7 linked regions of the Homo sapiens genome follow. The protein of the gene in region 4 purifies or fractionates together with the protein of the main gene of each other region. This does not show direct contact. Each region holds a gene or a part of one and is shown on either strand. Other genes may lie near its edges.

What was found.
Region 1: the proteins of TMPRSS13 (region 4) and TGFBR3 purify together in Homo sapiens (affinity purification with mass spectrometry; one large-scale study listed by BioGRID and IntAct). This does not show direct contact.
Region 2: the proteins of TMPRSS13 (region 4) and FAM177A1 purify together in Homo sapiens (affinity purification with mass spectrometry; one large-scale study listed by BioGRID and IntAct). This does not show direct contact.
Region 3: the proteins of TMPRSS13 (region 4) and GPC6 purify together in Homo sapiens (affinity purification with mass spectrometry; one large-scale study listed by BioGRID and IntAct). This does not show direct contact.
Region 5: the proteins of TMPRSS13 (region 4) and ALG9 purify together in Homo sapiens (affinity purification with mass spectrometry; one large-scale study listed by BioGRID and IntAct). This does not show direct contact.
Region 6: the proteins of TMPRSS13 (region 4) and FUT8 purify together in Homo sapiens (affinity purification with mass spectrometry; one large-scale study listed by BioGRID and IntAct). This does not show direct contact.
Region 7: the proteins of TMPRSS13 (region 4) and C1GALT1 purify together in Homo sapiens (affinity purification with mass spectrometry; one large-scale study listed by BioGRID and IntAct). This does not show direct contact.

What each region holds. Positions count from the first base shown.
Region 1 is NC_000001.11:91,876,152-91,879,651, reverse strand, and holds part of TGFBR3 (transforming growth factor beta receptor type 3 isoform a precursor), read left to right. Parts: intron 1-3,500. UniProt on the Homo sapiens protein: Cell surface receptor that regulates diverse cellular processes including cell proliferation, differentiation, migration, and apoptosis.
Region 2 is NC_000014.9:35,049,272-35,052,771, reverse strand, and holds part of FAM177A1 (protein FAM177A1 isoform 1 precursor), read right to left. Parts: intron 1-3,500.
Region 3 is NC_000013.11:93,824,807-93,828,306, reverse strand, and holds part of GPC6 (glypican-6 precursor), read right to left. Parts: intron 1-3,500. UniProt on the Homo sapiens protein: Cell surface proteoglycan that bears heparan sulfate. Putative cell surface coreceptor for growth factors, extracellular matrix proteins, proteases and anti-proteases. Enhances migration and invasion of cancer cells through WNT5A signaling.
Region 4 is NC_000011.10:117,902,772-117,905,402, forward strand, and holds part of TMPRSS13 (transmembrane protease serine 13), read right to left. Parts: intron 1,331-2,631; coding exon 1,188-1,330; intron 1,037-1,187; coding exon 884-1,036; intron 681-883; coding exon of another isoform or gene 666-680; exon of another isoform or gene 271-665; intron 1-270. UniProt on the Homo sapiens protein: Serine protease. Cleaves the proform of PRSS8/prostasin to form the active protein. Cleaves the proform of HGF to form the active protein which promotes MAPK signaling.
Region 5 is NC_000011.10:111,833,582-111,837,081, reverse strand, and holds part of ALG9 (alpha-1,2-mannosyltransferase ALG9), read left to right. Parts: intron 1-787; coding exon 788-917; intron 918-3,500. UniProt on the Homo sapiens protein: Mannosyltransferase that operates in the biosynthetic pathway of dolichol-linked oligosaccharides, the glycan precursors employed in protein asparagine (N)-glycosylation.
Region 6 is NC_000014.9:65,415,730-65,419,229, reverse strand, and holds part of FUT8 (alpha-(1,6)-fucosyltransferase), read right to left. Parts: intron 1-3,500. UniProt on the Homo sapiens protein: Catalyzes the addition of fucose in alpha 1-6 linkage to the first GlcNAc residue, next to the peptide chains in N-glycans.
Region 7 is NC_000007.14:7,227,544-7,231,043, reverse strand, and holds part of C1GALT1 (glycoprotein-N-acetylgalactosamine 3-beta-galactosyltransferase 1), read right to left. Parts: intron 1-3,500. UniProt on the Homo sapiens protein: Glycosyltransferase that generates the core 1 O-glycan Gal-beta1-3GalNAc-alpha1-Ser/Thr (T antigen), which is a precursor for many extended O-glycans in glycoproteins.

The sequences.
Region 1 (3,500 bases), on a different chromosome or scaffold from region 4:
GTTTTTGAAACAACATTGATATAAATTCTGCATGAGGCTACTGTCATTTGGAACTTATTCTTCATTTTTTATTCTTCAGTTTTTCAGGCCAAAGATGAAGACTTAATAGGCTGACAACTGCTTATGAGGGATAGAGACCATATTTAAAATGGAAGGTCTAGAACAAGAGCCCCAGAACCATGCCTTCAGGCCATCCTAATGTGCCCTGCTGAAGATAATTTTTTGGTGTCGGGGGGCAGGGCAGGGAGCCTAATGTCTGGTTTTTGTGGTGGTGGTTCTTTTATGTTGAAATCTTCTTCCATCCTGGGAAGAGGATTCAGTTATATGTAGAGCCTAGCAAAGTTGATTTTTAGAATTAGATTTTAATGGTTATTTTTTTTTTTGAGACAGAGTCTTGCTCTGTTGCTTAGGCTGGAGTGCAGTGGTGTGATCTTGGCTCACTGCAACCTCTGCCTCCTGGGTTCAAGCGATTATTGTGCCTCAGCCTCCCAAGTAACTGGGATTACAGGCGGGGGCCACCACATCTGGCTAATTTTTGTATTTTTAGTAGAGACAGGGTTTTGCCATGTTGTCCAGGCTGGTCTCGAACTTCTGGCCTCAAGTGATCTTTCCCCCTCAGCCTCCCAAAGTGCAGGGATTACAGGCGTGAGCCACCATGCCCGCAAGCCCACTTTAATGTTAAACTGTTGCCAAGATAATTTAGAATTAAGTCTGAAATGTTAGCTCTATCTTTACTTAAAAAATGGTTATAAAGAAGCGTATACTTTCTGGACATTGGACTCCTAGTGAAGGGGGCCTTTGGAGTTGGGTGTTGTTTGCAGGAGGACGAAACACCTGCTTTTCTGTCCTTCCAGGCACATAATTCATTTCTCTGGTATATGCCGAAGGTCAGGTTTTTTGTGTAAAATTGCTGATGGATCATTTGTAAAAACACATTTAAGTTGATTAGTCCTTGAAAAATGATCTTTAGAAAATGATCTTTACAGATACTAGTCCTTGAGCTTTCCTGTGGATCAGATTGCCTTGGGCGAAGGTCTGCAGTTTCACAAGCATGACTCACTACCTTTTATAGGTGAGAACATCAAATGGGCCAGGTGGAGGGTCTAGTAGAACTCTGGATTTCTTTTTAAATTTGTATCATACTATTTTGCTAATGGAAACTTGATGAATACTTAATTCCATCTGGCAAGTGAAAAGGGTCCCTTTTGGGAGTATTCGTTTTGTTAGCATTTTTAGTGATTTATTGTTTTGACAGTGTGATATTGGTCCTTGGATGCAAAAATACTCTGGAGACTATTTGGAAATTTCATTTTATAATTAACTAACTGTGTGATAATTGCTGGAGCAGAATGTGTGTTTTTTTTTTTTTTCTTTTCATTCTGGAAGGTTATTTGAGGTGAAAAACTTAGATTCTAATCACAAAGGCTTGTGTTCATGTGGTACCCTGAGTACTTTTGTAAGATACTCACTGTGTTGCTGTGAGTTATCTCTTTTATGGTTTTTTCTTTAAAACAAAACTCTTCTGAGTCTCCATAAAGAATAAGTATCTCATTTTGTTATATTAGATTTTGTGCAGTTGGCTGGCAAATTAAATTTAACTTTGAGGGAAAGCACCATTGACTCATTACATACATTTTGCATCATTGCAGCGTAAGGTCTTCCCTATGTGTGTGGGAGAAGTTTCTGATCTAAATGGGCATGTTTCCTATTGCTGGTCTATCTTTTAGCCAAAGCATTTCTGAATAGACATTCCTATTCATTTTCTTATTTTCGAGACTTTAGAGAGATTGCTACTTGTTATGTATTCGTGATAAATCATCTGAATCCTGAAAAAAATACTTATGCCAACAGCCCATTTTGTAAAGACACTTGTCTTTGAGCTTTTAAGCTGTCATACTCATTATTCGTTACAATAGCTGTACAGCCATTGGATGTATCATGTTTTTGACACAGGAGCTAGGGGAAGGATGACCTACTTGTTGCATTTCACATTTTTCCATATTTATATCTTTTTTCAATTTGTGGCATCTTTATTTCATTGTTAGAGTGGTTGTTCTCTAAGACGTTCCAGGTTTTAATTTCATTCACTGTGTGGGCTAAATAAGGAGCTTTCCTGTAGAACCAATTCTACTAAATTCCTGAAAATGTCAGTTAAAAATTAGCCAGGCATGGTGGTGTGTGCCTGTAGTCCCAGCTTCTCAGGAGGCTGAGGCAGGAGGATGGCTTGAGCCAGGAGGTCGAGGCTGCAGTGAGTCATGATCATACCACTGCACTCCAGCCTGGGTGACAGAGTGAGACCTTGTCCCTACCCCCACCACACACACAAAAAAAGAAAATATGAAGAAAAAAGAAAATGCTTCCAAAAAGTATCCCATCTAGATACCATGCTGGTTAGGGCTTTTGGTCATGTTTGAATGGGACATAGCTGAACACAGAGCAGGATTTCAATGGGTAGGCTAGGAAAAGGAGAGGAGTGTCTAATTTGTTGGGAGAAAATCCACTTTTGCATAATAATAGGGGATTTACGTGTTTTCTTTGGAGTTAATATGTATTTCAAGTAGGTAGATAGGTAAGAGGTTTGCAAAAAAATTTTGCTAAGGTTGAGGTTCTGTAGTTGGCAACTCTTATAACCCTGAAGATCCTGTTCTCTAAAGCCAGGAAAAAGCAGTCTGTTTCCAATTATGTATCACAAAAAATAGTGAAATTAAGCCAAGAAAAATGATCATTTGGGAGTTGGGTTGCTTTTTTTTTTGCAGAGGGTAAAGGAGAAAGGACTGTAGACACACATTTTAAAGAATCTGCTAGTTTTTCTGTTGGCTTTCAGATTTTTCTCAAATGCTCTGTATTGGAAATTAAGAATAATTTTAGGATTAAAGGCCTTTTCCTCCTTCGGCTTCTTTTTGTTTCTCAGAGAGCAAATAGAAGAGCATTTAGGCAGTTTTTGCTGACATGAAAGGGTTTGGGTCCAGTGTTCCGGGACCCAGCTTGTGTTTTTGGTAAAGCCTTTTCCTGCCTGAATGGTCCCAGGTTATGGGCTCACAGCATCATACCTGGTAGTGGTGCTATGGTTTTTGTTATATGAATTTTTTTACCATGCTTTGAACTGAAATGTAGTCCCTGCTGCCTAGCATTATTCTGCTGGAGGAGAAAACTAGGGATGTTAGTGTGGGAAAGGTATGGAGGTGCGAAGCCTAGCATTTGGATGATGTGTGGGTGAATATATTGTCCTCAGCACTTGTCAGAAGCAACTAGCCTTTCGGGATGCCTACTGCTAGTTTCAGGATTAGTGGTCCTGTGAGACCTAGGTGTTAACTAAGAAATCTCCTTTCCACTGCCAGAAGATCAGCCCCGGCAGGTCTTAGTTCCTGTTTCTCACACCTTACACCTCCACAGAGTGTTGAATAAGACTTTCCTGATGCTGCATAATCTTTGATAACTCTTAGTCTTGTCACTGAGGCTAATGTGTTTTAGCTCTTGGTGCTTTTCTTCTCACCTCCCAT
Region 2 (3,500 bases), on a different chromosome or scaffold from region 4:
TTTTTTTTCTATAGGGACAGTGTCTGGCTATGTTGCCCAGGTTGGTCTCCAACTACTGGCCTTAAGCAATCCTCCCACTTCAGCCTCCCAAAGTTTTAGGATTACAGGCATACGTCACTGTGCCTGAGCTGGAATTCTAATACAAATTTTACTCCTATATATTTACACTATATATATCTATATATATAGTGGGAGATGGTGAAGAGCTTCTTTTCATTGTCCTCTTGCCTCAAGTTTAAACTCCTAATAAAACTGCCTGAAGTTGGGCCAGGCGCGGGCTCATACCTGTAATCCCAGCATTTTGGGAGGCCGAGGCAGGCGGATCACAAGGTCAGGAGATCGAGACCACGGTGAAACCCTGTCTCTACTAAAAATATAAAAAATTAGCTGGGCGCAGCAGCGGGTGCCTGTAGTCCCAACTACTCGGGAGGCTGAGGCAGAAGAATGGCATGAACCTGGAAGGCGCGCCACTGCACTCCAGTCTGGGCAACAGAGCAAGACTCCATCTCGGAAAAAAAAAAAGAAAACTGCCTGAAGTTTAAACTTCCAGATTTCAAAAAGGTACAGTACATACAATTGTGAAGAAAAATCTGGCAACAGTGGTTACCCCATGGGTAGAAACTAAGATGGGGGAGAAGCAGAAGGCAAGGGAGTAGTCAAAGGAGGGCTTTTATTCTTTTTGCATATACAGGACTACAGTAATGTCATGATTACAGTCTATGTTCGTAGAATTCTCTAGGATAGTCCAGAGTACAAACATTTTGTTCTCTATAAAGATTCTTGTGGTTATAAGCAAACATAATTTAAACCCATGACTGCTGTTCAACCACTGGAAAAGCTCTTTGAATTGCTATTGCAAAAAAAGGATTATACTGATAAAAACAGTGAACTGCCCAGTTATGCAAGTATAAGCTACTTTGTTTTTATACATTGTTTCATCTTAATCTTCTAAGGTCCTTCTTAGAAAACAGATATGATTCTTCTCTGCCTTTTACCTCCCAAAGGTAAGTTTAGTCATTAGCCAGGATTTGAACTGCAGATCATGAAAATTTGGTAACAGGCCAGCCGTGGTGGCTCATACCTGTAATCCTAGCACTTTGGGAGGCTGAGGCAGGAGGATCACATGAGGTGAGGAGTTCGAGACCAGGCTGGCCAACATGGCAAAACCCCAACTTTACTAAAAATACAAAAATCAGCTAGGCATGGTGGTACACGTATGTAATTTCAGCTACTTGGGAGGCTGAGGCATGAGAATCACTTGAACCCAGGAGGTGGATGTTGCAGTGAGCCGAGATCGCACCACTGCACTCAAGCCTGGGCAACAGAGCCAGACTGTCTCAAAAAAATAAAAATAAGGCTGGGTGCTGTGGCTCAGGCCTATAATGGCAGCAATTTGGGGGGCCAAGGCAAGATAACCTGATGTCAGGAGTTGGAGACCAGCCCGGCCAACATGGTGAAACCCTGTCTCCACTAAAAAAACAAAAATTAGCTGGGCGTGGTGGCACGCACCTGTAGTCCCAGCTACTCGGGAAGCTGAGGAATGAGAATCACTTAAACCCGGGAGGTGGCGGTTGCAGTGAGCTGAGATCGTGCCACTGCACTCCAGTCTGGGTCACACAGCGAGACTCCATCTCAAAAAATAAAAATAATAAACTATCTTAAAAAATAAAATTTGGTAACATAGGCTACCTATGTATTAACATGAAAAAAAGTCACAATTCTTTCTAGCCTGTCCTGAGGGTTCAAATAAATCCCAGCCCTTAACAAGGAAAGATCAGGTCATTTATTGTGTCCATGAAAAAAATAAACAAGTAGTTAACCCAGGACACTTTTCTTCTACCTACCCCCAAGCCCCACCAATCCCCAGGCACTGACAGCCATCCCTACCCAGTCTCATGTTTACCCTTGAGATAAAATTTGGCTATGGCTGTCCTGACATCAACGTTTCCTTTTGGACCATGACTCAGCTTTTTGGATCCCTTAATTTCCTATGCAAAGGAAAGACAGATGAGCTAAGTTAGATCTCCAGTCATCCTACTAACTGGATGGATCTAATGTCAATGCAACAGCTCCAGTCAGTGAATAGAGAGCTCAGATCCTTCACAGTATACCACCATGCCCCACCCTATCCCACCCCCAAGACAGTAGAGGCTTCTCACTGCTACCTCTAGCAATCTCTCATTGGCTTAATTTTTTCCTTCTATGACACAGGCAAAGGAAGGAATGTCAGTGCTCAAAAAGCTTCAGATTTTAGAGTATTTCAGATGAGGGATAATGATTCCAACCTCTATTTGGGAGGCGGGGTGGGGGGCAATGAAGGAAGCACTAACAGGTAAAACCAACCAGAAAATCATTTGATACAAAATTCCCAATAATTATATTTTTAAAATATTTTTCTTTTTTTATTTTTCAAACATCAACTTGAACCAGAAATCCAATAATTACAAATAAAATTTACACTGTGGCTGGGCATGGTGGCTCATGCTTGTAACCCCAGCACTTTGGGAGACTGAGGCGGGCAGACAACTTGAGGTCAAGGGTGTGAGACCACCCTGGCTAACATGGTGAAATCCCACCTCTACTAAAAAAATACAAAAATTAGCCAGGCGCGGTGGAGCGTGCCTATAATCCCAGCTACACAGGAGGCTGAGGCAGGAGAATTGCTTGAACCCGGGAGGTGGAGGTTGCAGCGAGCCGAGATCGCGCCATGAACTTCAGCCTGGGCAACAGAGTGAGATTCTGTCTCAAAAAACAAAAAAAGTTACACTGTGAATTTTCCAAATGCTTCATTTTATAAATCTGCAAGTAAGAAAAATTTCACTGCCAATTATGCAAATTCCATAACGAACCCCAAAGATCTGAAAGATAGTTTCATAACACCAGGAAATTATGAGGTACCATGTCAATTAACATTTTACTCCATTTTATAGTTAACCAAACTATAAATGTGCTTATCTTTATTCTCAGGATCTGTTTTTTTCTTTTTTGAAAAGGAGTCTTGCTCTGTCATCCAGGCTGGAATGCAGTGGTGCGATCTTGGCTCACTGCAACCTCTACCTCCTGGGTTTCAGCGATTCTCCTGCCTCAGCCTCCCGAGTAGCTGGGACTACAGGCGTGAGCCATAATGCCCAGCTAATTTTTCTATTTTTAGTAGAGATGAGGGTTTCATCACGTTGGCCAGGCTGGTCTCGAACTCCTGACCTCAAGTGATCCACTGGCCTCAGCCTTCCAAAGTGCTGGGATTATAGGTGTGAGCCACTCTGCCCAGCTCAGGATCTGGTTTTAATGGCAATTTTTTGTATATACTCCCATGGCACCCAGACTTCTTTAAAACACATACTAGACTTAGAATTTATTCTTTGTCATCTTCCCCAACTAGGCTATTAGCAACATGGGGGTAGGTACTGCTATATCTTTCAGCCTAGAGTTCCTGGCACATAGTAAGTGCTTGGTAACAGAGGTACCAAATAAATCAATCACTGAGTGGTACTGAAATTTTA
Region 3 (3,500 bases), on a different chromosome or scaffold from region 4:
TTGGCCTTGCTGATACAGGAACAGGGTGGAAGGCGTAACAGATTGTGAAAGAAGATAAAAAAGAATGGGAAAATCACTGAATTGAAAAATACTAATACAATGAGACTGGAAAGTGGATTCTAATCATGAGCTCTGCAGCCTATTCATTTATCTTCTTTTTGAGGTCAATTATTTTGTTGGACTTAGGAATTAAAGCTTAATTTATTGAATACAGAATACTGCCTTCAGCAATGAATAGTAATCAATAGTGTGGTCTGGATTTGCAAAGAGCTTTAAAAAAAAGAGAAAGAGAAAAAAAAAAATTCTCTGATACTCATTGCTTTCCAAAGTCTTGAGAAATAAATGTTTGTCTTAGGAATAAAAATATCATTTTCTCTTTTACTGAGGGTAACACCTCCTTCAGTTTTTTTTTATTTTTTCTTCTGCTGATATGAGGACTCTGAATATTGAGCTATGCCCACTTTGAAAGTGAATGGTTCAAACAAGACTGCCCACTCACTATGTCTTGTGGTTTGTTTTTCCCAAGTTTAAATTAGTATTTGTGATTGAGTATAGAAACCAAGTTATCACATTTCAATAAATACGGCTCAAATAACATTTTCTTAGATTCCAAGCTTACATTGTTGTCTAAGAGTATGCCATTGTCTCAAAAGTTTTCTATTAACTTCACTGATCCTCAAAGTCAAGTTATTATTATTTCTTGTTAAAAATCATTACATGGTTTACTGATCTCATAGTCAAAGTTAATATTTGGTATTGAAAGACGCTAATGTATCAGCCAATTATGACAAATGTTGCTACCTCAAGGCACATTGATCTAAGATCTTATGAATAATGGAGATCCAAGGTACTGAGGCAAAGCTAATGTCCTCCCAAAATAAGGGTACTCATTTCATTTTCACCATGACTGTAGACATCCACCTTTTGAAATCTGACTCTTTGAACTAATTACTTTATGCTTGGATGAAAATTGTTTCTCAGCAAACCAAACAAGATGGAGATTTAGAAGACAGTTATGTGATCCATTTTACTGATGAAGTATCATGTGCAAGCAACATCAGAGAGAACAAAATTCAAGGACAATATAAGAAAAAGCAATCTCAACTGAACTCTTTTTAATGGAAGAGGACAAAGCACACATTGGATAAAGTCTTCAGTCAACAAAAATTTTTATCTGCAAAAAACAGTTTGGCAGAAAGAAATGCTATTTGATTTTTTCTTCTTCCTCAATCACAAAATATACATCAAAGTTGGTTGCTCAGGGCTCAGTTACGCTTCATAGGTGCACAAAAAACCTTTCCTAGCCAGCATTAGCCTCTGGGAAGATTTTATTCATCTAGAGGGGAGATCTCAATGCAAACATCTGTTTGCTTCAGGGCAGATTGTCTCAAGTGGGAGAACAGTCTTGTAGATAAAAACCACCACTGTTGCAAAAGCAAAAAGAAGGTCTGTGTGATGTGGCCTGATCACTTGGAGAGACCTCTTAAGGGGCAGAAACCAACCCCAAGGAGCCAAGAGGTGCCCTAAGGATAACTGAGAAAGGCTCCAAATGAAGCCTCCAAATAAGTGGACTGAAAGGTAAGATGGCACACCGGGACAAGGGGAAGCACAGAAAAAGGAAAAAGGCAGACAAGAGGCTCTCTACAGTCTACATCACACAGCAAAAGCTTTTCCCATTCAACTCAGAAATGTCTTGTTAACACTACATAGATAAACATGTTCTGTGCTGGATTAGGTACAGGATTGGATTAAGTACTATATAACATCCTTTTCCTATTTTTTTTCATGCTCTCAGAGACATTTCCTATTAAAAACTTGCTTAAAATGAATGTTACAGCATGGTGGTGTGAATCTATATCCTTTCGGAACCCAAGGAGTGAAAAGCTTTGGTCATTAGTCAGTCGAGATTATAGCACTTGTCCTACTGTGGGAAGCAGGTATGCTGTTTCCTTCCTTAAACCCAGAAATACACACATGTGTATGCAATTGTGTATGTTTGTGTAGTTATCTGCTAATCTCTTTGTTTCTACTCTCCCTCAACAACAGTATGATAAATCAGTTTGGTCAGCCCAGCCAAGCTGTGGGTAAGGAATGCTCCATAGGAGGGGCTGACATGGAGGATAAACTGGTTCTGAAAGCTGACATCCGGCCGGGTGCAGTGGCTCATGCCTGTAATCTCAGCACTTTGGGAGGCCGAGGTGGGCAGATCACCTGAGGTCAGGAGTTCGAGACCAGCCTGGACAAACTGGTGAAACCCCGTCTCTACTAAAAATACAAAATTAGCCAGGCATGGTGGTGGGCACCTGTAGTCCCAGCTACTCAGGAGGCTGAGGCAGGAGAATCACTTGAACCCAGGAAGCGGAGGTTGCAATGAGCTGAGATCCTACTGCTGCACTTCAGCCTGGGGGACAGAGCAAGATCCATCTCAAAAAAAAAAAAAAAAAAAGAAAATAATAAAATAAAAAATAAAAGATGAAAGCTGACATCCTATAAGGGTTATGATCCATAGACACTCAATAAACTTACCAGCCTGTCTTCCCTCCTGCCTTTCTCAAGGTGAAATGAGGAGTAGTCTTTCTCATTCCACACACATGTGTCAGCTTTCAGATATATCTTTGAGATCATTTCTCCTTTCAAAAGGCATCTTGCTTATGTAACAGCCTGATATAATCTGCAGGAAAATGCTGAGTTAATGAGGAGCGTTAATGAAGGGAGACCCACAGTGCCATTTATCCTCTTCTGCATTAGACTGTGAGGGAGGGAAAACATGGTCCCAAATGGCCTATCTCTTCCCACTTCCCAGAGGCTGGGACCTTGAAAGTAAGTAGAGTAAAGATGGACATTGCTCAGGACGTCTGTCCTTGCCACATGAGGCGGTGTCCTTTGCAAGCTGCAGCTTGTGTGCTATTGAGCAGTAGATGACCCTAGTCTATCTCAGGTGTCAACTTCAGCACTGTGCTCATTTTGAGCTGGATAATTCTTTCTTTGGGCAGGGGTTTGGGGAGCACTGTGCTGTATATTGTAAATTATTAAGTAGTATGCCTGGCCTCTACCTTTTAGATGCCAGTGGCACATCCTTCTCTGAGTAGTCACAACCAAAATGTCATCAAACATTATCAAATGTCCTCTTGGGGACAAGACCACTCTCACTCCCTTCCTTACCCCCACCTGCTGAGAGCCACCCTTCTACTGATAGATTCCAAGGTCTACTAATAGAACATTAAAAATATTCAGAGAAAACGCCAGCCTATTTCTAAACCACATCTCATCAACCCCATGATTTGTTTGTAATACAAATTTGAGGTGCTGTGTCTTAAATGGAAGGAATTGAAATACAGATTGTATTCACAGTAAGATTCTCGGTAGTCAATACTCCCATTTCCATGTATGGTGCCTGTTACATGATAGTGCCTTAAAAAGTGGTGAATAGTGAATGAATGAATAGATCGATGGATGAACATGACCATCCAGTGAAATACATCCTGACTCCTTTGGTTCTG
Region 4 (2,631 bases):
TCATCCTTAATTTATAACAATAAATAGTAAATACCGAGGATATTCCAGGCATTGTAAATGGCTGATTTTGATAGATTAGTCAGAGTTCTTCAGTAAGAAAAATGGAAGATGAGAGGGTGGAAGTGGGAGAGGGGACTCTCTAGGGTGGATCAAGTATTCCAAAGGCCAAGGGCAAGGTAAGGCACACACTGAAGGGTCTGTGGTTCAGTTTGACCTGAGCAATGACTTCTGAGGTTGGATATAGGTTAAAGCAAGTCAAAAAACATAAAATAACTTTTTATTATTTTATTACTTTATACTCTTTTATGATAGTAGTGAGGTTCTGATGAAATATTTTAAGTGGGAAAGGGAAAGAATGGTAGTTCTCAGGGAGCATTCTGGTGACAGCTGTGAAAGTTGTCAGAGTTAAAATGGAGTCACTTGTGTTTTTAAAAAAAGACAACAACAACAACAAAAAGAAAATCAAAAAGACTAAAACAAACAGAGCTGGGAAAGGCCATGAAGAGCGGATTCCCATGCATAAATGCTTGATAACAAAAACTATCACAAAATCCTCTGCAGAAACTGAAACGTTTTCAAAGTCCATTGCAACCTTACACAAAAAAATACTTCTGGGAGAACATCTGCCCAGCAACTGCCTGCCTGGCCTGTAGGTCCACCCTTTTTCAACCCGCTGAGCTCTGTTCTGAGGGAAGAAAAGCAGGGAAAGAAACACAGACAGCTGGGATTGACCCCAGGCATCACATTTGACCCTGTCCAGAACACCCCCCGAATATGGGGACGCTGAGGGGACCTCTGCCTACAACCTGGGTGCTCCTCCAGGGTCCCCACCTGAGGAAGTTCCCAGCCTGCTGGGTGCAGTGTCCTGCTGCAGGGATCTTACCTCCATCTTGCTGTAAATCCAGGGAAGAACTTCTGTCACTTTGGTGTACACACCAGGTTTGTTTCTCTGGCCACAGCCTGTGCCCCAGCTGGTGACACCTGCCAGGTACCAGCGGTTGTTCTGCTCACAGACAAGAGGCCCCCCGCTGTCTCCCTGCAGGGGAGAGGGGGCACATTCGCAGGATGGGACAGGTGGTCCATGAGCGGGAAAGGGTGGGGTCCCAATTCCCACATCAGCCCCAACACCCCTGCCTCCCCCATCCCCAGGGTGCTGGGACCTGAGCCCCACCCACAGGTACCCTCACCTGGCAGGAGTCTCTGCCCCCACGAAGGTCCCCAGCACACATCATCCTTGGGGTAAGGTAACTGTCATAGACCAAGTAGTCATTGCATTTCTTGAAGTCGATGAGATTGACCTGCACCTCCCGGAGGAAGGGGGATGTCTTGTCTTCAGTGAAGTGGGGTGGAGGAGACAGAGGATGGGAAGCCAGTGAGATTCTAGATAGCTTCCTGGCCGTCCAGCTGCCACCCCAAGACCCAGAATCACAGCCTCCTGGGAATGGAGGGTGCCATGCCCGTGCCTGGCTCCCACCCAAGGGAGGCCCTCTGTGGTTGGACACCCAGGACATATGGGCACACACGCCCTCACACAAGACACAGCTCACTGCACGTGAGACAGAGACATCCATGCACACAGACACACTCACAAGCCTATCAGGCTACCCGACATGTTGCACAGCACTTGCCTACGTTCAAAGCACCCTCAGATACATGGCTTTGTTTGTTTTTGGAAGCTATGTGCCCTAAAGAGAGCAGGTGGCATTAATCCATTTACCGGTGGGGAGGCCTGGTGCTGGAGAAGTGACCTGCCCACAGTCACACAGCTAGTCAGGTATGGAGACAAGAGGAGAAGTAGGCTGCACCCACATCAGTCATTGCTCTGCCTCACGGAGGGAGGGAAAAGCGGTCCTGATGCATGGAAGTGGCCTGAGTCTAACCATGGGGTCATCCTGCTCAAAGTAAGCAATCTCACAGGACAAGGCACTCTGTGATTGGGATGACATGAAAACAAGACCACTTCATCATCTTGTTTAAGGCCAGACAAAAACAAGGTCACTGTGCAAACCACAACAGTACCAGACATCCCCCTCTCCTGGCCAATATGAGTGACTGCTGCTTCCTTACCACTTAGAGCTCCTAGATAAGATTATATATATATATATATATATATATATATATATATATATATATTCTTAATTGAGACGGGTTTCACTCTGTCACCCAGGCTAGAGTGCAGTGGCATGATCATGGCTCACTGTAGCCTCAACCTCCCTGGGATCAAGTGATCCTCCTGCCTCAGCCCCTCTCATAGCTGGGACTACAGGCACACATCACCATGCCCAGCTAATTTTTCTATTTTTTGTAGAGATGGGGTTTTGCCATGATGCCCAGGCTGGTCTTGAACTCCTGGGCTCAAGAGATTCTCCCACCTTGGCCTCCCAAAGTGCTGGGACTACAGGTGTAAGCTACGGTGCCCGGCCTCTAGATAAGATTATTAAGGTTCCCAATCATAACCCCTGCTTCCTGACACCACAATTTAGAGAAAAGTCCTGCGTCTTTGAACCCTCCCCAAGCCACCTAAATCCTACGAGCATTCCCTCTCTGACACCCTCTTGCTGAGATGCTCCATGGTTCTTCATGGTGTGTTCTCTCTCTCATTGCAATGAGCAATGAACTCAACTAGTTCAA
Region 5 (3,500 bases), 6.1 Mb from region 4:
ACCCAACAGTAGTGAAAGTTCTCCACCATTATGTGGACACTGGGGAAGGCTGTGGTTAAAATGTCTATACCAGTTTCCTTTATGCTTTCTGTGGTTCTGAGAGCATAGGCCCTAAAGTTCTTTGTAGTTTGCTTCATTTGGCCAGAGAAGAGTCCTGTGTAGGTTAAAGGGAAATCTGGTTAAGATGAGTCATGTTGCTCCATTTGAGAAATGGCTTCAGTAGCTTGGCTTTACTGGGTAGTAGTTTCTTATGCTTCATAAAGACCCTGTGTCAGTCATTAATGATTAAATTAAAACTTGTTTTTTAAGTGTTGACTTTAGCCTTTGCCTTTTACGTTTGAAATAGTTTTATAGATAAAGATATGTTTGAGGGTTACTCCGGAACAAAGTATTTCTCCCATAGTGTGTTCTCAGTGCCATATATTACATTTCATTCTTTTTCTCTACACCTGATAATTTGCTTTATTTGATAAGTCTCTCTGCCCACATAGTAATTGACAATAAGCATTGGCACTTCTCTGGTTTTTTGATGATATGACCATTTGGTTGTGAATTTCACTGCTAACAGTTGGTGAAATGGGTCAAGAGACATCTAATTATAAATTTCTCAATGATTTTGGACTGACTTGTGACCTCTGCCTCTGTGCTCCCTGGTTGAGGTTTTAGCAGAAATATTTTTTCTTCAAGAGAAATGTTTTTCACATGATTTTCCTGGCTTGTTTGTTTCAAGTACATTTAGCAATATTATCCCCCTGTGTTTTTCTTATTCTCCTTGTGTTTCTGACAGTTGGCAGCTTCAGTTCATTCCATCAGAGTTCAGAGGTCAGTTACCAAAACCTTTTGCAGAAGGACCTCTGGCCACCCGGATTGTTCCTACTGACATGAATGACCAGAATCTAGAAGAGCCATCCAGATATGTAAGGGCTACATTCTCTTCTTGCTTCTCTGAAAAGAATTCTATGCCTAAAAGTCTGTTGGTGTGTATATTAGAGCATTGATAAAATGAGAATTTCTTAGAAAGCAATTTTTTTAAGGCCGGGTGCTGTGGCTCACACCTGTAATCCCAGCACTTTGGGAGACGGGCGGGATAATTGCTTGAATTCAGAAGTTCGAGACCAGCCTGGGCAACATAGCAAGATCACATTTCTACAAAAAATTAAAAAATAAGCCAGGTGTGGTGGCTTATGCCTGTAATCCCAGCCTTTCAGAAGGCTGAGGCAGGAGGATCACTTGAGCCTCGGAGTTCAAGGCTGCAGTAGGCCATGATTCCGCTACTGCACTCCAGCCTGGGCAACAGAGTGAGACCCTGTCTCAGAAAAAAACCGGATATTTTTTAGGATGAGGGGTATAACAGCTTTTGTTGAAAAACAGTAAACAGTATCACTTTTATTTTCAAATTAACCTCTTTATTTTCTATGTAAAATGTATAATTTAATTTTGAAGGTTTTGGGTAGGCTGAAAGTTTTCTTACGGTAGAAGTTTGAACCATTATTCTGAAACTCATATCATTCCTTGGCCTATTAAAATCCTTAATGAGGAACTTTCAAGTTATCAGGTGGACCTTTGACCTAGCTATTAGTATATTCCGGTTTTAACAAATGAACAGTAAAGACTGTTTCCATACTGAATGCCAGGGAGCAGCCTCTGTCAGGGCCATGATCTTCTCCCTACTTGTCTTTACACATTCTGAGATCCCATGCGAATTTTACTTCAGTTCCTTTGAAAGATGACACTTTTGACATTTGATACCTGTGAAATCTTTGATAATGAAAAAGGTAAGAAGTAATAAAGATAATGCTCCTTTTGGGTCACAAAGACAGTGTAAGATCGTTGTCTAGAATTATTAGAAAGCACATTTTTTGATAACCTGATAACCTGTCCGTTAAAGAAATATGTAACAGTTTAAATGTCAGCTATATTTAATTTACATTTTCTTATGTCATATGCTTAAAATGTAAAATAGCAAGACTTCCAATTCTCTTCTGAAGCAAACCTGCAGCCACATCTGGTCTTTTGTCTCCCAGATTGGGGCTGGTTAGAGTTCCATGGAGACCCTCAGGGTTTATGAGTGAGATTCTTATTGTATGAGCTGTAACTATAAGCTATGAAAATGGACACTTAAAGACACAGCCTTGAGCTGTTCCCTTGTAAGACAGGCGTTTCTGCCACATGGATTGTATTAGAGCTTTATTCTTTTAATTTAAGGCTCTGATTCCTGTTACAATGGAAATACCCTTGGGCAGGGTAGACTGTTACAGGTCATTTTAATTTTATCTGCAGATATGAGTCTCCTGAGTGCAGGGCATCATTCTAGAGAAGCTGGACAGTCAAAGGGTGGGAAAATACACTGTCATAGGGGGACAGTATGAATTCAGAGTGATGTTATCGGAGCTTTGCTTTAGGAAGAGGTAGTAAAAATGGAGTAGTAAAAAAAAGAGCGTGGACTTTGGAGTTGAGTAGGCCTGCATTCAAACCTCAGCTCTGTTGCTAAACTTGATAACCTTGGGCAAATTAGTTAGCTTCTCTGTTTAATTTCAGTTTCTGTCTGTAAAATGGCACCTACTTTGGAATTATGATATTTGATATTATATCTCTCTGTAGCAAAAATGCAATGTTCTTATGCTTGCACAAGTGTTCTTAATCTGATAATGGTATATTAGACAGATTCCAGGTAAAGAAACCCAATCTCTCCCCTTCCTTCTTTTTATTGTTTCCCATCCTTGTAATTTTATTCCAGTGTCTCCAGACTCATCATTGCGTTTTCCACCCCAGTGACTTCGCTTATATTGGTGACTATGCCTGAACTACCCTTGTGTCTCTTCTCACACTATCAAAATTATCTTCCTCTTTGAAGTGAACTATTTAAGTCCATATTGAGCAGACCTTCCTTTAAGTGTCTTCAGTATTTATCTGTGCAGTTCATTTAGCCATTTAATTTTCTTGGTCTTAGTTAAATATTTCTGATATCATATCTTTCCACATCAAATATGTGAATGCCATGAAGAGAATGACTGCACTTTGTTTCTTTTGTGTTCACCATAGTGTCTAGGACGGTGTCATGTACCCAGTAGTTCACTTTTACATGCTTTCTCAGTGGATAATGAATATTCATCGTCATTGTGGTAATGATGTTGAGAGAAAGCTGGCTAGAAAATCTACAGTGGCCTTTTGCACATTTCTTAGGCTTTTATCACTGGTTGTCTTAGTTAGATCATATTTCCATATTCTCTGCTGTCAGACAGTGTTAAATTTGATTAAATGACTCTATATGAGCTTTACCCGAAAGGTGATGATTTTTCAGGATGCCAGTAGGAGTCACCAAAATGCTGGCTGATAAAAGCAGGGAAAAACAAGTGATTTATGTCTGCTGGGTAGCAGCTGTGTCCAGCCCTTTGAATGCGAGGATTTTTTTGCTTATCTGTGGTGGCAGAATCATGAAAATTAGGCATGGACCTTTAGCTCTGGGTGGCAGGTTTTAGCCAGCCTTTGGCTTCAATGCT
Region 6 (3,500 bases), on a different chromosome or scaffold from region 4:
GGAGTGCAATGGCAAGATCTCGGCTCACTGCAACCTCCGCCTCCTGGGTTCAAGTGATTCTCCTGCCTCAGCCTCCCGGGTTCAAGTGATTCTCCTGCCTCAGCCTCCCAAGTAGCTACGATTACAGGCATGTGCCACCATGCCCGACTAATTTTGTATTTTTAGTAAAGATGAGGTTTCTCCATGTTGGTCAGGCTGGTCTCCAACTCCTGACCTCAGGTGATCCACCTGCCTCGGCCTCCCAAAGTGCTGGGATTACAGGCATGAGCCACCGCGCCCGGCCTATAAAATCATTTTTAATAAATAATATTAAATGCTATACAAATGAAGTTCTTCTAGTCTCTTGCCTACCACCTCAAAAGGAAATGATATCATTATAATAAACCTATTATAACATAAAAGCTAATGTTTTACCTGGAAATGTTCTATGAACTCTAAGGAAAAAAGTATACTGTAAAGATGGTCAATTCCCGCATTTCTTACCATTGCTAGAAGAGGATGACAAACAAGGAGAAGTAAGTAGAGGGAAAGAGAAAAACTGAATAAATCTCCTTCATCTCCAAATAAGGCAAGCTCATCAACCAGTATGCTCCTCTCTCTATCTCCCTCTCTTCACTGACTGCCCCAAGGTCCCAGACAATACAGAATCTATAAATTATATCTGTCCACTTTACCACTAATTAAGATATTACTATCAATTGTATTAATTGTAAAAATGCTTAGATTAGCTTATGGAATGTTGGCTTAAGTCATTAAATAACATTACAATGCTTTTATTATAGTTTTGATGGTTTGTAAATATTGTTTATACTCTAACCAAATTTAATCTGGTTCTAGATATTATTAGAATTTGATATCTCATTTAAGGGATATTATAGAAAAATCAGTCACAACATTGATAAAAACTTAAAACTCATTCATTGTCCATTGAAAGTCTTGATCAAATAAGACTTAGACAGATACACAGGTTCATTTTAGTTATACGTTAAAGGTAATTAAGAGGACTCTCCCATTTTCATTTTACTTTTGTTCAAGTTTACAATCAGAAAGTTATAGCATTTATGCACTTTCAAGTTTATATCATGAAGTTTATTCATTAGAAAAACTAATTCTAACCGTCTTCATGTGCCTCATTGCTACATGATATAAACTCATTACTCAGGTTCTAAAATAAACATTAGCTTAATTTTCCATTTTCATCTAAGATTATTATCAATGTTTTATTATTTTATAATGTGAACTTTATACTGACCAGTCATCAAGGCTGTGACAAGATCTTTCAAGTTCGTTTTCATATTTATTCAGTTTATGGAAAAATAAATTTTAAAAACCCAAGTTATAAAATACAACAAATACAGTGAGCATTTCGTAGTGATCTTTAAAAGTTTTTCTTTTATTCCAGTGCTTCGAGGAAGAAGTTATAGTATAACTATACAATCACTATAGAAGAAAAGGCAGAATAGCAAAGGCAAATTTGAACCACATTAACACTACCCTTATATTGGTATAATTTGTTAATTAAAAGAAGATTTATAAATTCAAAACGTATTTCTCCTTCACATTGTCATTTTCTGACCAAAAAAAAGACTACCACAAAGAGGTATTTTTTTAAAGTAGATGGGTAAGAAAATTTAAATGAAATTAGCCCTATAACTCTGCTTTCAGTAAGAGTACAAAAGTAACCCTTATATTGACAAATACGGCATAATTCCATAGGTCCCATTTGCTCTTCCTCCGTTAAAAGGAAAATGTGTAGTATCATATAAAGTTTATATGGGTTTTATGTTCAGAATATTGTAGAGATTAAGAAAAACCTTTGCCTGGTGGGAGGTAAGATTAACTTTATTGGTTTGATTTCCCATTATTCCAAATGGAAGACTGTTGGATGATGGGGGGTAGCTGGGGAAAGGAAAAAAATGCCAGGAGATTAGAATGTTGAAAGAAAGAGAAGTTGAGATTTGAAACTAATCCATTTTTTAAAAATCTTACAACCAAGCATGGTAGCTCACGCCTGTGGGAGGCCAAGGTGGGATGATCACTTGAGGTCAGGAGTTCAAGACCAGCCTGGGCAACATGGCAAGACCCTGTCTCTTTTAAACTTAGAAACAAACAAACAAACAAAAATCTTTTTAATAAAATAAAGGAGCCGGGTACAGTGACTCACGCCTGTAATCCCAGCATTTTAGGAGGCCAAGGTGTGAGGACCACTTGACCCCAGGAGTTCAAGACAAACCTGGGCAACATACCAAGGTCTCATCTCTACAAATATTAAAAAATAATTAGCCACGCATGGTGGCATGCACCCATAATCCCAGATACTCCAGAGGCTAAGGCGGGAGAATGGCTTGAACCAGGGAGTTCAAGGCTGCAGTGAGCCGTGATCACGCCACTACTGCACTCCAACCTGGGCAACATAGAGAGACAACCCCCAACCCCAATCTCAAAAAAAAAAAAAAAAAAATTAAAGAAAATAAAATGTTAAATCTACACATCCCCATATAATATTCTTCTGTTGGAGATTTTTTTACAGGTTCTTTAAAAATCAGTCGTAAATATCTTTTACTTTTAAATATGTTTAATTGTTTCACTATAACAAGCTGCAATGTAAAAACAATTCAAACTCCAAGAAAGAAACTCCATACTATACGGTAGTGAAATATGAGCCAGAGAATCAATAAGAGGATGCTACACTACTGTTGAAGACCAGAAGTTGATATCTCCTTTGAAAAGTATCAACAGAAGCAGCATTGATGCAGGGTACAAAAGTACTATAATAAAGCTGGCTGTGGTAGCACATGCCTATAGTCCCAGCTACTCAAGAGACTGAGGTAGGAGGATTGCTTGAGCCCAGGAGTTCAAGGCCAACCTGGACAAAACAGCAAGATCACATCTCTTTGGGGGAAAAAAAAAAAAAGGTACCATAATAGTAATACTTTTAGTTTCAGAGTTGTTTAAAAATCTTAATTTTATGTTTAGTAAAGTAACTTATTCAAGTTTTTTTAAATATTTACTCTTATGATTGTAAAACTTTCTTTTATATTTATCAATTTGCTATAATATGAAATGATGTATCCACCATTTAACTAAATCAAGAGATTTATTAAATGCAGTTTATCATAAATCAAAAATAACCATTAATGAAATGGAAGAATCTATTTACTTTATCAGCATTGAGATTCTATTTACATAATGAAGAGCTATGGATAATAAACAGCCCAAACACTATCTGCAAAAAAACCAATATTCCAATGATTTTAATATACATATAACTATCAGTTTCTAGGCTTGGATTTAAAGAATATGTGAATGGAAAGAAGTAAATTAACATACTAATTTATTACAGCTTAGAAACCTAAATGAAATGCCACAGGCCACAAAACAACTGCTTCGTATTCAAAGGCACACATTCAATTTGGTAGATCAGCTGGACGCACTGCATTATACTGCAGGAGATAAGGGTTAAGTGACCTGGGGATATTGTTCTCCAGATGTCTAAAAGG
Region 7 (3,500 bases), on a different chromosome or scaffold from region 4:
TATTTCTAATTCTTCAGGCAGAAGGAAAAGAATTTCAGATAAAAATTCAGAGATGTAGGAAGGAAGGGAGAGTCATAAAAAGGGTATGTATGTAAGTAAATCCAAATAAATATTGGCTATAATAAAACATTTTTTGAAAGTCTCACAAGATATTAGTATTATTACCATTAAAACAAATTACAAAACTGGCATCAAAAAGTATAAGGAGGATCCATAGAGTTTAAGAGCTCTAAAGTCATTTCACTGTCCAGGAGTTGTTTAAAAAAAAAAAACTGATTAATAATAGCCTTTAAAAGACCAAGGATGTCTAATATAATCTTTAAACAAACAAACAGTAAAACAATATAATTAAATTCAAATACAAAAAAATGAAATGGGAAAATACCCCAAATCAAGGCAATGTTAAAAAAAAAAAAAAAAAGGGAATATAGAATAGATGAGACAAATAGAAAATAAATAGTAAGGTGGTTGATTTAGAACCAAACATATCAATGATTATATTAAAAGCAAATAGACTAAAAACTACAATTAAAAAATAAAGATTGCCAGCCAGACTCGAGAAAAATAAACTCATCTACATGCAGCTTACAAGAGACACATATTAAATAGATTTATAAAGTTGAAAGCAAAATAATAGAAAAATATACCATACAAACAGTAATTAAAGGAAAGCTTATTGATACCACAAAAAAAACTAGTAGTTACATGGCTTGTTCTCTGTGACATTCATTAAGCTCTACATTTATGATTTTACATACTTTTCTGTATTAACATTTATTTCAGTAAAAAGTGTATACAAAAACCCATTCATGTGTCTTTATCCCATTAAGTACATACTTAATATATTCATATTTGATATAAAAATATCCCAAAATCTACAAGTAAAATTGACATGCCATGACAACACACCATGCTTATGCTGCATTATATATCTTATATTTCAGGCTCTCTCCTGAATTGTAATTCCAGTTTGGGAAGAAAAACCCTAAGAGGAAGAGGAGAGGTGAAGGAACAGCACAGTATAAGCAAAGCTGCCCAGTATCTTGAGATGTAAATTAACCATCTGAAACTATCAGATACATGTTTACACCTTTTGCTCTATCCTGACTGTACCTTCAAGTTCAGAAAGGTAGGCCTTCATGGATGATGAGTACATAGCCCCACTCAACGATCCTTCTCTCTACACCCAATCAAATTTGCCACAGGAAAACCAGAAACAAGTTTACCATGTCTTTCTGCTGTTTTCTCTGATGAGGGGGTCTCAAATTCTGCCTCCCTACTGCCCCCTTTCCCTCATTCAGGTTGGCCGTTAGTGTAATCTTTATATCCAAAAGATACAATAAAACATATCCCTCCTGTCTTAAGTGATTGTTCTGAAATTCTAAATATCTCGATTGTCTGAGGACCAGTTCATTAGACCTTGCTCTAACCAGAAATCTTGGTTTGAAATTTCATTCAAACAGCCAGAGAGAACTGATTAGTCAAGTATCTGTTCGATATTATACAAGTCCTTCCTTTAGCAGTATACATGATCAAGACAATCTACAATAGAGGTATGTGATATGAAAGTACCATGAATTGAAAACATGAAGCCAAGAGAAGTAAATGAAAGATGTTTTAACTCTTAATTTCTTATGGAGGAAGACAAGCAGAATACGATTGAAGCAGTGAACCTGGAGCATTAGCAGATACTGAGTTGTCACTCTCTACATCCTCTGATTCTCTCACTAACACTTTGCCTTACAGCACACTGATCTTGGTTTTCCATTGCTTTTTGTCCTAGCTGTGATTTTGCCTTAATACCATACACAGCCACTTCACCATCTCAGAAAAGAACAAAGACAGTATTTTACTGCTGCAGAGTCTACCGCTCCTGGCACTGGAGAAGAAAGCAGTAGTCACAATGCCATTCAGTACCACTTAGGCAGAAAGCACTGTGACTGAGAAGAGGAAGGACTGCAGGACCAGAGAAAATTCCTATTTCTATCATCATATGGATATCTGAAGTTAAAGAAGTGCTAACCCAGCTCCATCAACTATGAATACTAACATGCTACTCAATCATATTCCAAGGACATGCTGAGCTTCAGAACAAGCCTACTTCTATAACACAAAAACAGTTACTGTTTGTGGAAAGCTACTGAAGTACTTATGGACACAGTTTTTCTTAGCTGAAGAGGCACTTTTTAAGCAAGGCATCTATCCTGGAGTGAATGTAAGGAAAACTGACTTCTTGGTGTTACGTAATTGTTTTTAACTTTAAAATGTTTTGTGATGCTGTCTGATGCCTGTCATACTCTCTTACTCTTCTCCCCCAGAGTATCAGCACACTCAGAATGTGTTGGCTCCTCTTGTGTTGTGTTTACCACATTCCCTTCCAATTTAAAGGACTCCGGCCTTATGACTAAATAACTGTAAACTCCCATTTTTTTTTTTCCTGCTCCTGGGATAAAATAGCCATCTCATGGGGGTAGAATGCATCCCAAAGCTCACTCAGATTTTTGGCAAAAATCATGTCCACAAGAGTGTTGAGGTAGACTAGACTGGAAAAAGACACAGCTTAACCACACTGCACATTATGAGGGCTTAAATACTATTTCTTTGAATTGGGTGGGGGAAGTTCTTTATGCCAAGTGCTTCCAAACCTGATGTGTAATCAGAATCGCTTGAGGATATTTTAAAAGTACAGATTTCCAAGCTTGACAACTGAGGTTTCAGATACAAAAGAACTCCCGGGACAACTAAAATTTATATTTTAATTTTATTTTTAAAGGGACAGCTTTATGCTATTCATTGTTAAAAAAGGATTTAGAAGGAAGAAATCATCACAAGTCCTACTACCCAGAAACAACAATTATTAATATTTTGTGATTATCATTACAGGTTTCTCTCTAGCAATAACAAAAATAGGAGAGGTAATTACAGTTAACATTTGAACCCTGTACTAAGAGCATCTGCAAACTATAAAGTACGGACTAGTATTCCCATTTACAGATGAATTCAGACACAGAGAGTCACACTAGCAATCTGAATCAGGAATTCAGACTCTTAACCACTTTGCTATTATGTCTTAGTCCATTTTCTGGTATTTATAACAGAACAACTGAAACTGGGTAATTTATAAAGAGAAAGCATTTATTTCTTACAGTTACGGAGGCTAGAAAGTCCAAGGCCAAAGGGGGCACATCTGGTAAGAGCCTTCTTGCTGTTGAGGACTCTCCTCTGAAGAGTCTTGAGGTGGCACAGAGCATCACATGGCATGAGGGATACGCATGCTAACGTGTTAGCTTAGGTTTGTTCCTCTTCCCTTTTTTTTTTTTTTTTGAGACGGAGTCTCGCTCTGTTGCCCAGGCTGGAGTGCAGTGGCGGGATCTCGGCTCACTGCAAGCTCCGCCTCCCGGGTTCACGCCATTCTCCTGCCTCAGCCTCCCAAGTAGCTGGGACTACAGGCGCCCGCCACTACGCCCGGCTAATTTTTTGTGTTTTTAGTAGAGACGGGG